2 linked regions of the Homo sapiens genome follow. The protein of the gene in region 1 interacts with the protein of each later gene in a pairwise test. Each region holds a gene or a part of one and is shown on either strand. Other genes may lie near its edges.

Region 1 (5,728 bases):
AAACCTTTTTAATATTTCTTTATAGCTGAGTTTTCCCTTCTGTATCAAAACAAAATAATACAAAAAATGCTTTTAGAGTTTAAGCAATGGTTGAAATTTGTAGGTACTATCTGTCTTATTTTGTGTGTGTTTAGAGGTGTTCTAAAGACCCGTGGTAACAGGGCAAGTTTTCTACGTTTTTAAGAGCCCTTAGAACGTGGGTATTTTTTTTCTTGAGAAAAGCTAATGCACCTACAGATGGCCCCCAACATTCTCTTCCTTTTGCTTCTAGTCAACCTTAATGGGCTGTTACAGAAACTAGTTCGTGTTTATATACTATTTCCTTTGATGTCCTATAAGTCGGAAAAGAAAGGGGCAAAGAGAACCTATTATTTGCCAGTTTTTAAGCAGAGCTCAATCTATGCCAGCTCTCTGGCATCTGGGGTTCCTGACTGATACCAGCAGTTGAAGGAAGAGAGTGCATGGCACCTGGTGTGTAACGACACAATCAGCACAACTGGAGAGAGGCATTAAAGAACCAGGGAAGGTAGTTTGATTTTTCATTGAATTCTACAAGCTAATATTGTTCCACGTATGTAGTCTTAGACCAATAGCTGTAACTATCAGCTGCAATACCATGGTGACCAGCTGTTACAAAAGATTTTTTCCTGTTTTATCTGAAACATACTGGATTTATATATGTATAAGCGCCTCAATGGGGAATTAGAGCCAGATGTTATGATTTGTTTGCTCTTTTTCTTTTATAGTTTAGTTATAGCAAAAATATGGATAATTTCTAGTGAATGCATAAATTAGGTTGCGTTTCTTATTTTGCTTTAAATCTCTGGTAGTTTTTCCACCCCTGTGACACAATCCTAATAGACAGTGTCCTGTAAATGGACACAACACAATAAAGTCAAGTTATTATTGCTGTTACTCTGGATGATATGGAAAACACTGCCATATTTTAAATCAACTACTCCACGTGTTTTTCCATCCAATCACACTGCTGTGATTCAGGGATCTTTCTTCTAAGACGGACACATTTGAACCTCAGGTTCATCACAAACCTGGTACCTGTTGCTTCCCAGAGGATGGAGAAGTGTAGTTAATCACACCTCTTAGTTTAATCTGAAATCTTGACCCAGTTATTTAACAAATAAATACCTCATTGATTATATTTAAAAGTAATACACTTCCTGTAAACAAATGGGGACAATGCATCCAAAAAATCTTTTTAAACAGATTACACAAAAATTATTTCCAGAAAGGCTACCATTTATCATCATTATATTTCAAGCCTCTTATACTTAATAAGCACTTTCTAAAAAGTCTTGAGATCCCACCATTCTGAGGAATTCAATATGATCACTTTTTCCTTCTTTGCCTGGGAGAGGTTAAGAGGAGGTTTCGAAGGTATAGATGCTATTGTTCTGATGGCCCGGCTGAATAAAATGGAAATTCTAGTTTGTTAGAATTATGCATTCTTTTTCAAGATTCTCAGTGTGCCTAACTTATTGGAGCACATCAGTTTCTTGGGTAATGGAAAACATTACCTAGAGTTGCCAGTGGCACATTACACCAGTACAGAGCACATTCCAAAGGAGACATTGGACCAGTTAATTCCCATACAAGTCAAGGTAACAGAACAAAAGGGAATCCTGATGCCCTTTTACCATTGCTGGTTGAGCTCAGGCACTGTCATGGACACCCTTAATTTTAAAAGGTTTTAATCATTCTTCTATAAAATACATTTAAAATGGAAAAATACTTAATATCACTAAATATCAGAACAATGTAACATTTACAAATGACATATTGAAAGCAAAGGCTGTTTTATTTAGCCAAGATGATTACCATTAGGAGTTACTTTATGTATTGTTGAAAGCAAATTTTAAACATGATGTTTTAGAAGTGTTTCTGATTTTTAAACCTGGTTTACAGGTATTACTTCTGCACTTACCAAATAATGCCAGATGGAAATTTATTATTTCTTGCAATTCCCATGATAGCTCTGTTCTTTATGCATTGTCTCAACACTTTCCCTTTTTTCCCAAAATGAGTAGAGAATTAAAGCCACCCAAAACAGCTTCTGCTACTAAAATGTTCTCATCCTTTCTCCTCCCTCTCCTTTTCCTGCCACAAAAGGTGAAAAATGAGATCCAATCCTCTCACCAAAATTTCAAACCTAGGACACTGGAATGACTGCAGGGATCAGTGGTTCTCCCATATCACCATCAATTAAGACATATAGGACACTGTCTTCCTTCAAGAGGGTTACAATGTGGCCATCAGACAGGAAACCAAACGGTGGATAAAGTATTAAGTAACTAAGTGCCAAATAAATGCTGGAAATCTTGACCTCTCCTTGGGATTATGGGTGTAACAAAAATCCCTACATCTGTTTATGAAGGCCATATTCAGTACATTTTAAATGGTAAATAATCTGTTTATGTGAAGAAAAAGAATTAAGTCTTTCTTCCAACTCTCTCCTTGGATAGCCTAGCACAGTGCAGCCTCCATAACCATGACATTCCCGCCCAAGCTCTCAGTGCCTAATCCTGCTTTGTCATTCACATCTCACAAAATCTTGACATCTTACATTCCAATACATTATCAAGCAAGCACAAGTATGCTGGTAGTAGCCTCTTTAAATAATATGTATAGACAACAACAACGACAAAAAATAGACTGTTTTAAAGTTTCAGGGAAAGTTGGTGGCTGATTTAAAGTTGTGCAGGAAACATCTTCTGTGTATGAAGCAAATGTCGATGTTTTGAAAAAAGCTAGGAGATGACTTTGAATGAATGCAAGGTTAGTGAGATCCTAAGCTCTCAAAATAGCATATTCCCTAGAGCTCAAGAAAGCTGGTCCAGGAGGTTGAAAAAGCTATTTTGTTGTTAAATTATTTTCTGGCCCTTCTTAATATTTAAAAATGTATTTCCCCTTGTGGCTTTCAACCACCTGCTCAAAAAAAGAGACTTGTTACATGAAAGTTTTCATTAAAGAGCTGAAAACAAGAATTTAGAGAGCCATTCCTAGAAAATGTCCTACTGCCCTGCATTTGACAAACAAGCATCCTTTACTAACAAGAGCAGGAATTCAGAGGCACAAGAAAAAGCATTGGCATGAGCCAAAGAGTCTGTCTTAATGTTACTTTTGAAAATCTGCTGAGCGGCCACCATATGCAGGCTGAGAGCTGGGCACAGGCGAAGCCATTGGAAGCACTTCAGGAACAAGCACACAGCTGTGGGACTTGAACATGCAAGTGTTCAGGTTGTGTCAAGAAGCTTTTCTTTCCTTCTATGATGGAATCTGTTCTTTTCTATCCTACTTTTTTCTCTCTTCCTCTCCTCACCACATTATACCCTGCTCTTACGCAGTAAACGTTTTAATGGCCCGTTTATGTCTCATGCCTCCAAACAACACTGAATTTGAAACCCCCCATTTTTTCTTTTCACCACCCTGTTGAGCAATTTTCCCAAAAAAAGGGCAGCAATTATTAAATTGAATTCAAGTAAGCCAGCCAAAGATAGGTCCTAAATTGCTAGTCCCAGTAGAACCACCTGATCCTAAACCAGTGCGAAACAAACAGTAACAATGTCCCCAGCTGACTTCAGCTAAGAACCAATGGCTCCTACCCCCGCCCCGCTTTTTTTTGTTGTTTTTTGTTTTGTTTTGAGACGGAGTCTTGCTCTGTCCCCCAGGCTGGAGTGCACTGGCGCAATCTCGGGCTCACTGCAACCTCCTCCTCCTCCCACATTGAGGCGATTCTCCTGCCTCAGCCTCCCAAGTAGCTGGGATTACAGGCACCCGCCATCACACCCAGCTAATTTTTTTTTTTTTTTGTATTATTAGTAGAAGCCAGGTTTCACCATGTTGGCCAGGGTGGTCTCGAACTCCTGACCTCAAGTGATCCGTCCACCTCGGCCTTGCAAATTGCTGGGATTACAGGTGTGAGCCACCGTGCCGAGCCAGCCCCATTTTTTAAATGATGTTTTGGTTAAGAGTGGACCATGAGAATTAGCTGACAGCATCCCCTTTCTCTCTCCCTGCCTTGGTGGGACCCTCCCTGTGTGACCTTGGTCAAGTCCTCGAACTTTTGTCCCGTATTTAAGATGGAGCTGTTTTACCTACTTCATAAGACAGTTGCGAGGTGCCATTGATTCTTGACTGCAAAATACCTTGAAACCCTTATATAAAGACTGAAGTCAACGGAGCCTAGTGAAAGACTTACTTTGTGGCTTGTGGTTGAAAGTCACATCAAAAGACAAATGTGGCCACGTTCAGGAATTGGAGACTTACTGGCATGGCTCTACAGCTGCTCAGTTATTAATCATGCAGACTAACCTGTCAACACTGGGAGATGCAACATAGCAAAAGGACAGAGAAATTAGAATTTTTTGTGCAGAAAGCCCTAAATTCCCACCTGAATGTAACTTACAGCTCCCTTACCTACTCTCACACATGCCCTCAAACATGCTAGATTGGCTTATACATAGGCCAACACAAAATACAAACGTGACGTGTTCATGTAGCCTAGTGGCTATATGCCTATTCTCCATGTACCCTGCATGGTAGTGCTGCAAACTTTAAAGTACATTTCTTTCACAGCAGTATTTTTTTTCATAAGTGGCATATAAATGTCATTCAATGAAATGGGGAAATCACGTTGAGAAGTTGGTCTGTCATCTCCCATTGAGCAAAGACTGGCAGGAGATAATAAAAATAAATATGGGCACACATGTATTAATATACAGCACGCATTTACAAGTTTATTTTCCAGATAAAATTGTGCTATAAGAACAGCTCTACCAAGACAGTCTGCACCATTTCCAAGTCTCAGTTAATTTACAGCAACTGCTGCTTTCGGAGATGGCTGTGAAAATATGGAAGTTCCTCTCAAGTAGGCCAAGAAACAGTTCTAGATTTTACTAAGTTTTATTTTGTCAGGTTTTTTAAATTTTTTCAGTGAGCGTGGTGACTGCAGAGGTTAGTGCTGTGAAAAGCTGGGCTAAATATTCTTTCTGTAAAGTCAAACAGGATTCCATCCCCTGTGAAATAACACAAAATTTCACTCTCTAAAAGCAACAGCATGTAAACTAGAATGAAAGAAGGAAATTATGTACGTATGCCTAATATTCTTTGTGAATGTCTTTCATTTAACTAAAATTATATTAGAAACCAGATTGATAAATAAAAAATTCAAAGTAGTTTTAATTATCCTAAAAGCGATTCTTCGTGTTTTGTACCACTTGTCTCTCTTAAGAGCAATTTTCAACCTTCAGCAAAAGTTAAGTTCCAAGCACTGAAATATAAGCCTACTGAGAATATCGTCTTTCCACAAGTTGTGGAGATATAGTCACTCCTAAAAGGTCTGATTTGGGTACGTCCATGGTTAACCTCCTACCACAAATAGCTCCCCGTTAAAAGAGGAGTTTTTCTTAAAGTGGCTTAGTAGACATTGACTTTGGTTAGTTTACACCCATCTTGATAAAATGTGGTTCGAGTTCAGTTATCTCCAGAATATATTCTGATCCTTATTTGGAATGAGGGAGTAACACTGGATAGTGGGCACATGGATCCAAGCCAGGGAACTAGACAGCAAGGACTCGGCATGCATCGGAGGTGCGAAGCTTCCTAAATGCACTCCGTGTGCTTTTAGAGCTAAGTTATTACTCTCACTTGCTAGTTGTTCTGCAGCGAGCAGCTCTATGCAAACCACCCCTGCAAACCAAGGAAGCTGAGA
Region 2 (7,030 bases), on another chromosome or scaffold:
TGGTCCGGGTTGGTAGAGAGGAGGCAGTGTTTAGGGGCAGGGGCAGCTCCACGAGAGGACAGAGCCAAAGCGGGGTGAGGGAATGGTGGGGTCCGCCAGAGGAGTAAGTCATTCTTAAGTGTGTGTTTGGACTCTGCCTTATAAATGCTGGAAGCCACCAAAGGTCTTTGATTGTGCCAGGCATCTTAGGTGTTTGAGGGAGATTAGCTTGGGGAAAATGTACATGAGAGATCGGGGTGGGGGCAGGAGAGGGTGTGCAGCAGGTAGGCCTGTACCCACATTGCTGGGGGCTGGGAAGGAAGGGTGCCGGAAGAAAGCCTGCATTCCCATGGCCCAGGCAGCCAGGCTGCTGTGAAGGGCTGGGAGGTAGAGGGAAGGGCTGACACCCTCAGACTCGGACCCTTCCAGCCTGTACTGAGAAGGGACCAAGCAGTTCCAAGGGTAAGGTGGTTTGGGGGAGCCCAGGCTCTTCCTAAAGGGCAACGTGGAGTCAGAGCCCGGGTGAAGGAGGAGCTCAGATTGGGCCTCAGGTCACACCACTTCATCAGTTGCATGACCTGTGGACTCGGGGATACAGGGAGACACACAGCCATGGAAGTAGCTCTCTGCAGTGATCGGGGGAAAGGTGGCCACTTCTGAACAGCCTGTCACCATGCAGGGCACACTGTTGTGCACTGGGCACTGAGACAGGCCTGGGGGGTCCAGTACCGACTCGGATGGGGGTTACCTTGGACTGACTGGGAGCTGCGGTCACTTGGTGGGGTGATGGGCATGGCCTGTCTTGAGTCTGTGCCTGCCAGGCCCTGAAGATCTCCCTCTGTCTCCCTCTGCAGTGATGGGTCGTTCCCCTATGACTCTGTCCCTTGGCAGCAGAACACCAACCAGCCTCCCGGCTCCCTTTCCGTGGTCACCACGGTTTGGGGAGTAACCAACACATCCCAGAGCCAGGTAAGAGCCTATACTGCCCTCAGCCACAGCTCTTTCTAGGCGGGAGTGTCCCTTGACCCCTGGAGCCATACCAGCCCTCTTCACCCTCACAGGCCTTGCCCTGCTGGAAAGACCAGCTTCCAGGGCACACCCAGCTGTGGACACGTCTCCACCCCTGGCAGGCTCTGCACCCGCCTCAGGAGGGCAGCCTCTATGGACTGTCCCCATCCTAAGGCCTTTCTGGAGGAATGGCATTCATCTGACAGACAGCAAGGGGTTCTTCCCTAGCCCATTTGCTCTGGTAAACAGGAGAACTTCCTCTGTGTTACTGGCTTCAGGGCTCCAAGGTCTGAGGTCTCTGACCCTGGATGTATGGCCTGAGTTGGATTTCATCAAAATATTGTGCCTTGGACTTCTGACAACTCCCTACTCCCCATTGCCCTAGTCAGACCCACCTCCCTCTCATTCCTTCCTCTCTCTTCCACTCCTCCTCTGCCCAGTCAGGGAGTCTCCCACCTGTCTGACCTCTGCCAGCCTTTTCTGTGGCTACATGGAAGGCTCAGGGCTGCTTGTCACCCTGGAGGGAGCCACTGGGCTGACCGGTTGTCGCCTGCTCCTGCTGCCCTCCAGAGCTAGCAGGGTGGGTTCCTCTTGGCCCTCACAGAGCAGCAGCCAGGGGCCTTGGGGCCCCTGTGTGACAAGACGCTGGCATCCAGGCTCGTTTGTGGGGCAGTAGGCTTCATGGCCAGGGCTCTCCCCACGGGTACCTGGTACAAGAGCAGCCTCTTCTCCCTTCACTGGGCTGCGCAGCCCCTGGGGACCGCTTGAACTGGCTTTGTGGGGCTTGGTCATACCCTCAGCTTGTTCCATCACAAGGCTGACGTTCTCATCCCCCACGCCACCTGCCGCCCAGGCCCGCTCCTTATCACCGGTACACTCAGAATAGTTCATCCACCCTCCATTTTTTTCCTCCTCCCTGTTGTCCTGCCTCCACTTTGTTCTTTCTCCCTTTCCCCTCTTCATTTATCCCTCTTCCTCTCCACACTGCCTCGGGTAGCACCTTAGGTGACAACCACTTCTCTGCCCACAGGTCCTTGGGAACCCTATGGCCAATGCCAACAACCCCATGAATCCAGGCGGCAACCCCATGGCGTCGGGCATGACCACCAGCAACCCAGGCCTCAACTCCCCACAGTTTGCGGGGCAGCAGCAGCAGTTCTCAGCCAAGGCTGGCCCCGCTCAGCCCTACATCCAGCAGAGCATGTATGGCCGGCCCAACTACCCCGGCAGCGGGGGCTTTGGGGCCAGGTGAGCAGGGCTGACCTGTGGCAGAAGCCATGGACGCCACCCCTCTTCCTCCTTCCAGTGGGGAGGGACCCACTTAAATCCCAGCTCCACGCTTTCTGCCCTGAGAAGTTATCCTCTGTTGTTACATGAGTTGAAGGGGCTCAGTCATCCCTGGCTCCCAGGGCTGGCCTGCAGATAAGGCGCTGCAGCAGTTGGCCTGTGTTCTGACAGTCGTCAGACTCGTAGAAATAGAGAGGTGACATTCTTACTCCTCAAAACCTCAAAACAACCCTTCTCTAAATTTTGTCTTTAATGAATAGGAAAATATTGAGAAAATCTGGATTGGGAAAGTCGAAGAGCAGGTATAGATGGGGTCCAGTTGCCCAAAGACAGTGAAGCAGTCTGGGAATATCTGCTCTGCCTTGCTGATTGGTGAAAGCAGAACTATGCAGAGACTGCGAGTCCCTTGGCTGGGAAGAAAAGGGCAGGGACTCCCAGGATATGGAGCTCTGGGGAGTGGTGTGAGGCGAGCAGAGGTGCCCATTCTCCTCTTTCCACCCCGCCCTGCCTAAGACCCCCACCTTGGCCTCAGCCCTCACCAGCCCTGGCTGGGTTTCTGGCCTGGGGTTGGCACAGCTATATGACCTGGTGGTTAAACACAGGGATCAGAAACACCTGCAGCTGCAGCCGCAGCTCCGCCATCAATGCTGCAGGGCCTTGGGCAAGTTGCTCAGGTTCTCTGAGACTCAGTGTCCTTCAGAAGATGGGCTCACCAGGGCCCCGACAGCATGCAGTGAGGGTGCAGGCACCCCCAAGGGCTCCAGGAGCACAGCAGCCTGGTCGTTGCCAAGTGGCACAAATGAATGGCTGCCAATCCCAAGAGGCCCCGTCCCCTCTAGGTTCTGGGTACAGCTCCATCATCTCCCTTCCAGCCCACAGCTTGCCCTCAGTTCCCCTCAGATGCAGGCAGTACCTAACTCTTCCACCCTTCTCCCCCTGCAGTTACCCTGGGGGTCCTAACGCCCCCGCAGGCATGGGCATCCCTCCGCACACCAGGCCGCCTGCTGACTTCACTCAGCCCGCGGCAGCCGCTGCAGCAGCGGCAGTGGCAGCAGCAGCAGCCACAGCTACAGCCACAGCCACGGCCACTGTGGCAGCCCTGCAGGAGACACAGAACAAGGATATAAACCAGTATGGACCGGTAAGGGTTCCCACTAATCCTGGTCCAGCCTTGCCCAGCCAGCCAGGCAGACAGCCCTGGGAAACCAGAGTTGGGATGTCAGTGCTTATGGGGCCATGTGTGCTGGGAGAGCTGACTGCATTAGGGTGCATTTGGGCTTTCATGGAAGCATGTGGAGGTCTGTGTGTTTAGAATGGCGCATGTCTAGAATGGGGCGTGTCAGTGTGCTTGGGTGTGGTGGGGTGTATGGGTGCTGGTGTTTGTTCTGTGTGTTGGTGGCTCATGTACAACTGCATATGGGGAAAAGGTTCTACATGGCTCTCTGGGCCCCCAACTCACCAAGGAGTGGGCTCAATGTCTAAAAATAGTCTTGTGACCGGTCTGTCTCCTGGATTGCCTCTGAGACCAGTGCCCTCCTAGTCACCCTATCTGTGGGTCTGCGCAGGCCCCAGTGCTGCTCCCTGACCTTCTGAAGGATGGGTTAGGGGATGAGGAGAGGGGAGCCCCCATAGGAATGCAGAACAGGAGGTGAGGAGGTGGGAACTGCAGGGCAGAGGGGCAGAAGTGGAAGCTGGGCTGAGGCCAACTTTGGGGATGGAGGGTGTGCCTCCACTGGCCCAGGACCAAGGGCAGGGCCAGGGCTTCCAGGAAAGGGGCTGCAGTCTCACTCGGGCTCCTGCCTCCACCCTCATCTACCTCCACCCTCCCATACCCCTCCCTGTCCCTGCACACTTTCCTGGTTTTCTGCCTGCCTCCCTCCCTGGAAATGCTGCCTGTGCATCGGAGTGACCACCTCACCCCACCCCACCCCATCCCCTAACACCCCTGAGCTGCATCTCTCCTGTGCGGCTGCAGAGGGCAGCAGTGAGCCTGGGTGGATCCTGCTCCCCTGGGGCCTGGTTGGTCACCAGTCACTGCCGCACAGGACAGTGCCCCCTCCCCACTCCTCCACCTCCCCAACCCTTCCCTCCCTGCACTTTCAATGCATGTGGCATTTTATTCTTTTTTTTTTCTTCTCCCGTTGAAGGTCTGTTCCTCTTTCCAGATGGGTCCCACCCAGGCGTATAACAGCCAATTCATGAACCAGCCCGGGCCGCGGGGGCCTGCCTCCATGGGGGGCAGCATGAACCCCGCGAGCATGGCGGCTGGCATGACGCCCTCGGGGATGAGCGGCCCTCCCATGGGCATGAACCAGCCCCGGCCGCCCGGCATCAGCCCCTTTGGCACACACGGGCAGCGGATGCCCCAGCAGACCTACCCGGGCCCCCGGCCCCAGTCCCTTCCTATTCAGAACATAAAGAGGCCATACCCTGGAGAGGTGAGTGCAGCAGTGGGAGCCTGGGAGGTGGGAACTGGGACACCTGGGCTTGAAGACATGGGCCGTGGGTACGGCTTTGGAAGGGGTGTGGCTTGGACTCCAGCACACTTGGACAAAGAGGCAGGGGCTTAGGGGTCAGGTGCTCCTGGGTTTGAGACCTGGTTCTGCTGTTTCCCAACTGAAAGACCTCGAGCCAGTCACCCTGCCTCCTAGGGCTGCTTGAGGGACTTGAGGAGGTGTCCGTGAAGTGCTTGGCCCTGGGCTGGCATGTGCCGCCACTCAGCAAGCAGCAGTTCCTCTTACTGTAGTGACTCTTGTCTTGGCTCAGCCACTAACTGGGTGACCTGGGTTTAGTTCCTCCTGCCCACATGAGAGCTTCCCCAACTCCTCTCCAAGAAAGAGAGCTGAGACAAAATGCTTCCAGTCTATAAGGGCTGACCCGTCCGGGAAGTGACTGGAAGGCAGGCAGCGTGTTTCCAGTCTGTAAGGATTGACCTGTTGGGGAAGTGACTGGAAGGCAGAGAGCGTGTTTCCAATCTATAAGGACTGACCCGTTGGGGAAGTGACTGGAAGGCCGGCAGCTGTTTCCAGTCTATAAGGACTGACCCGTCAGGGAAGTGACTGGAAGGCAGACAGCGTGTTTCTTAGCTCTTGTTTCCATCCACACTTGGTCACTGTATAGGAAGTGGCACTGCCTCTTGGGCTGCACAGCCAGCTCAGCCAAGGTGTTGGGGAAGATTTGGGGAAGTAAAACCCACACCTCCTGCCCTCTGGGAAGTGAGGTTTTAGCAGGAAAGAAAAGTTTTTAGCAGAGACTCACCAGGGAATGAAGCATAGCAGACTGCACAGAACTCAATATGAGTCAGAGAAGGCAGGCTTCCTGGAGGGTGTGTCACAAGTAAATCCTCAGAAAATGATGCTGGCAGCAGCTGGCCCATCTGGGTACCCAGGTAAGGATTTAGTTTACCTGCAGAAGACGTAGGGACGTGGCTCTGCAGATGCCCCTCGTGAAGCCCTGGTTGCTCCCCACGACCAAGCCCCTTTTTGAGCAGGGTGTGCCCAGCTCTCTGCCTGCCTCCCTCCCAGCTTGCATGCCCACTCTCAGAGCAGTTTTCTCCTCCTAGCTCCTCTCAGCTCTGTGGCCTTCACCTTGGGTTCACAGCGGCTTTAGATTCCAAAGACCTTAAGTTCCTTGAAGATCTGCACATTTCCCCTCAGTATCCACCTTAGGATGGGCGGGGAGGCTTGGCAACAAGTGGAGGTATTCTGAGTTCAGGAGGGGAGAGAGAGGGGGGGGGGTCAGGGGCTTCCTCATGCATCCAAGAAGCTGGATCAAGCCCCAACCCTCCACCTGGTGGACACTAGTTCAGGGAGGGGCCAGAGAAGGACCATTGGCTCCTGGGTCCTGAGTTTGGGGGAGCCTCAAGCTATTGGCACCTCTCCTGGCACTCAGGCCCCATGCAGTTTCTAGGCCTTTTCTCAGCCACCCTGTGCTCAAAATCCCAGTGTCCCACTGGCTGTGCTGGGGGTGCATCTGTTAGCCCACGCCAAAGGAGGCAATCTCGGATGAGGCTTCAGCAGAATTCCTGGTCATTGGTGTCACCCCTGCACCTGCACCTGTGCCATGCTTATGGCTCTTGCCTGCCTAAAGAGAGCACACCAAAGGCTCTCCATATTTTTACTAAATTAATCATCCTTTTCATAGAGTGCTGCTGCTACCCAGCTACAGCACTGGGTGGTCACAGCCTATGCGGCCTGATCCTGTCTGGAAGACTGGCCTTCCTTCCCCTTGCCATGGCTTGTTCATACAATATTTGAATTGTTGGAGCCTTAGGACAGGGGTTGGGTCATCTGGTCCCACAGAGGACTCTCTTCTCTAGCTTGGTGGGCAGGTAGGCACCAGCTACGTCTTCTATACCTCCTGTGGTGGGTGCCTCACTGTCACCCAGAGCAGCCACCATGTTGCAACAACGTGAGTTGTAGATTCTTCCACACTGACACTTTCTGACATTTATCCCTAAGTCCATCATTCGTTTGTTGAGCAAGTATTAAGGGTATTTTCCCAGGCACTGGGGCACAGCCACCAACAGGACCTCTGGGCAAGAGAGACACTCAGATGGGGAAGAAGAAACCACTGACTCACAGGATGTCATGTGGCCGTGAGGGTCACCTGATTTTCCAGACAGGGAAGGTGGCTGGAGGGTGGTGCTCTCTCCTCTTCTCTAAATTGTCTGTCCCGGGAGAAGTTGTCTTGTTCCTTCACCAACCTGGCTCTCCCACCTCCTGCACAGGTGGCAGGTTGTCGATGGCCCAGAACT

Evidence for each region. The genes of interacting proteins can lie anywhere in the genome.
Region 2: the proteins of CNTNAP2 (region 1) and ZMIZ1 interact in a two-hybrid assay, tested with the Homo sapiens proteins (one study listed by BioGRID and IntAct).

What each region holds. Positions count from the first base shown.
Region 1 is NC_000007.14:148,415,789-148,421,516, forward strand, and holds the end of CNTNAP2 (contactin-associated protein-like 2 precursor), read left to right. Parts: 3' UTR 1-5,210; downstream 5,211-5,728. UniProt on the Homo sapiens protein: Required for gap junction formation. Required, with CNTNAP1, for radial and longitudinal organization of myelinated axons.
Region 2 is NC_000010.11:79,288,942-79,295,971, forward strand, and holds part of ZMIZ1 (zinc finger MIZ domain-containing protein 1), read left to right. Parts: intron 1-833; coding exon 834-948; intron 949-2,017; coding exon 2,018-2,235; intron 2,236-3,216; coding exon 3,217-3,415; intron 3,416-4,421; coding exon of another isoform or gene 4,422-4,439; coding exon 4,440-4,712; intron 4,713-7,030. UniProt on the Homo sapiens protein: Acts as a transcriptional coactivator. Increases ligand-dependent transcriptional activity of AR and promotes AR sumoylation. The stimulation of AR activity is dependent upon sumoylation.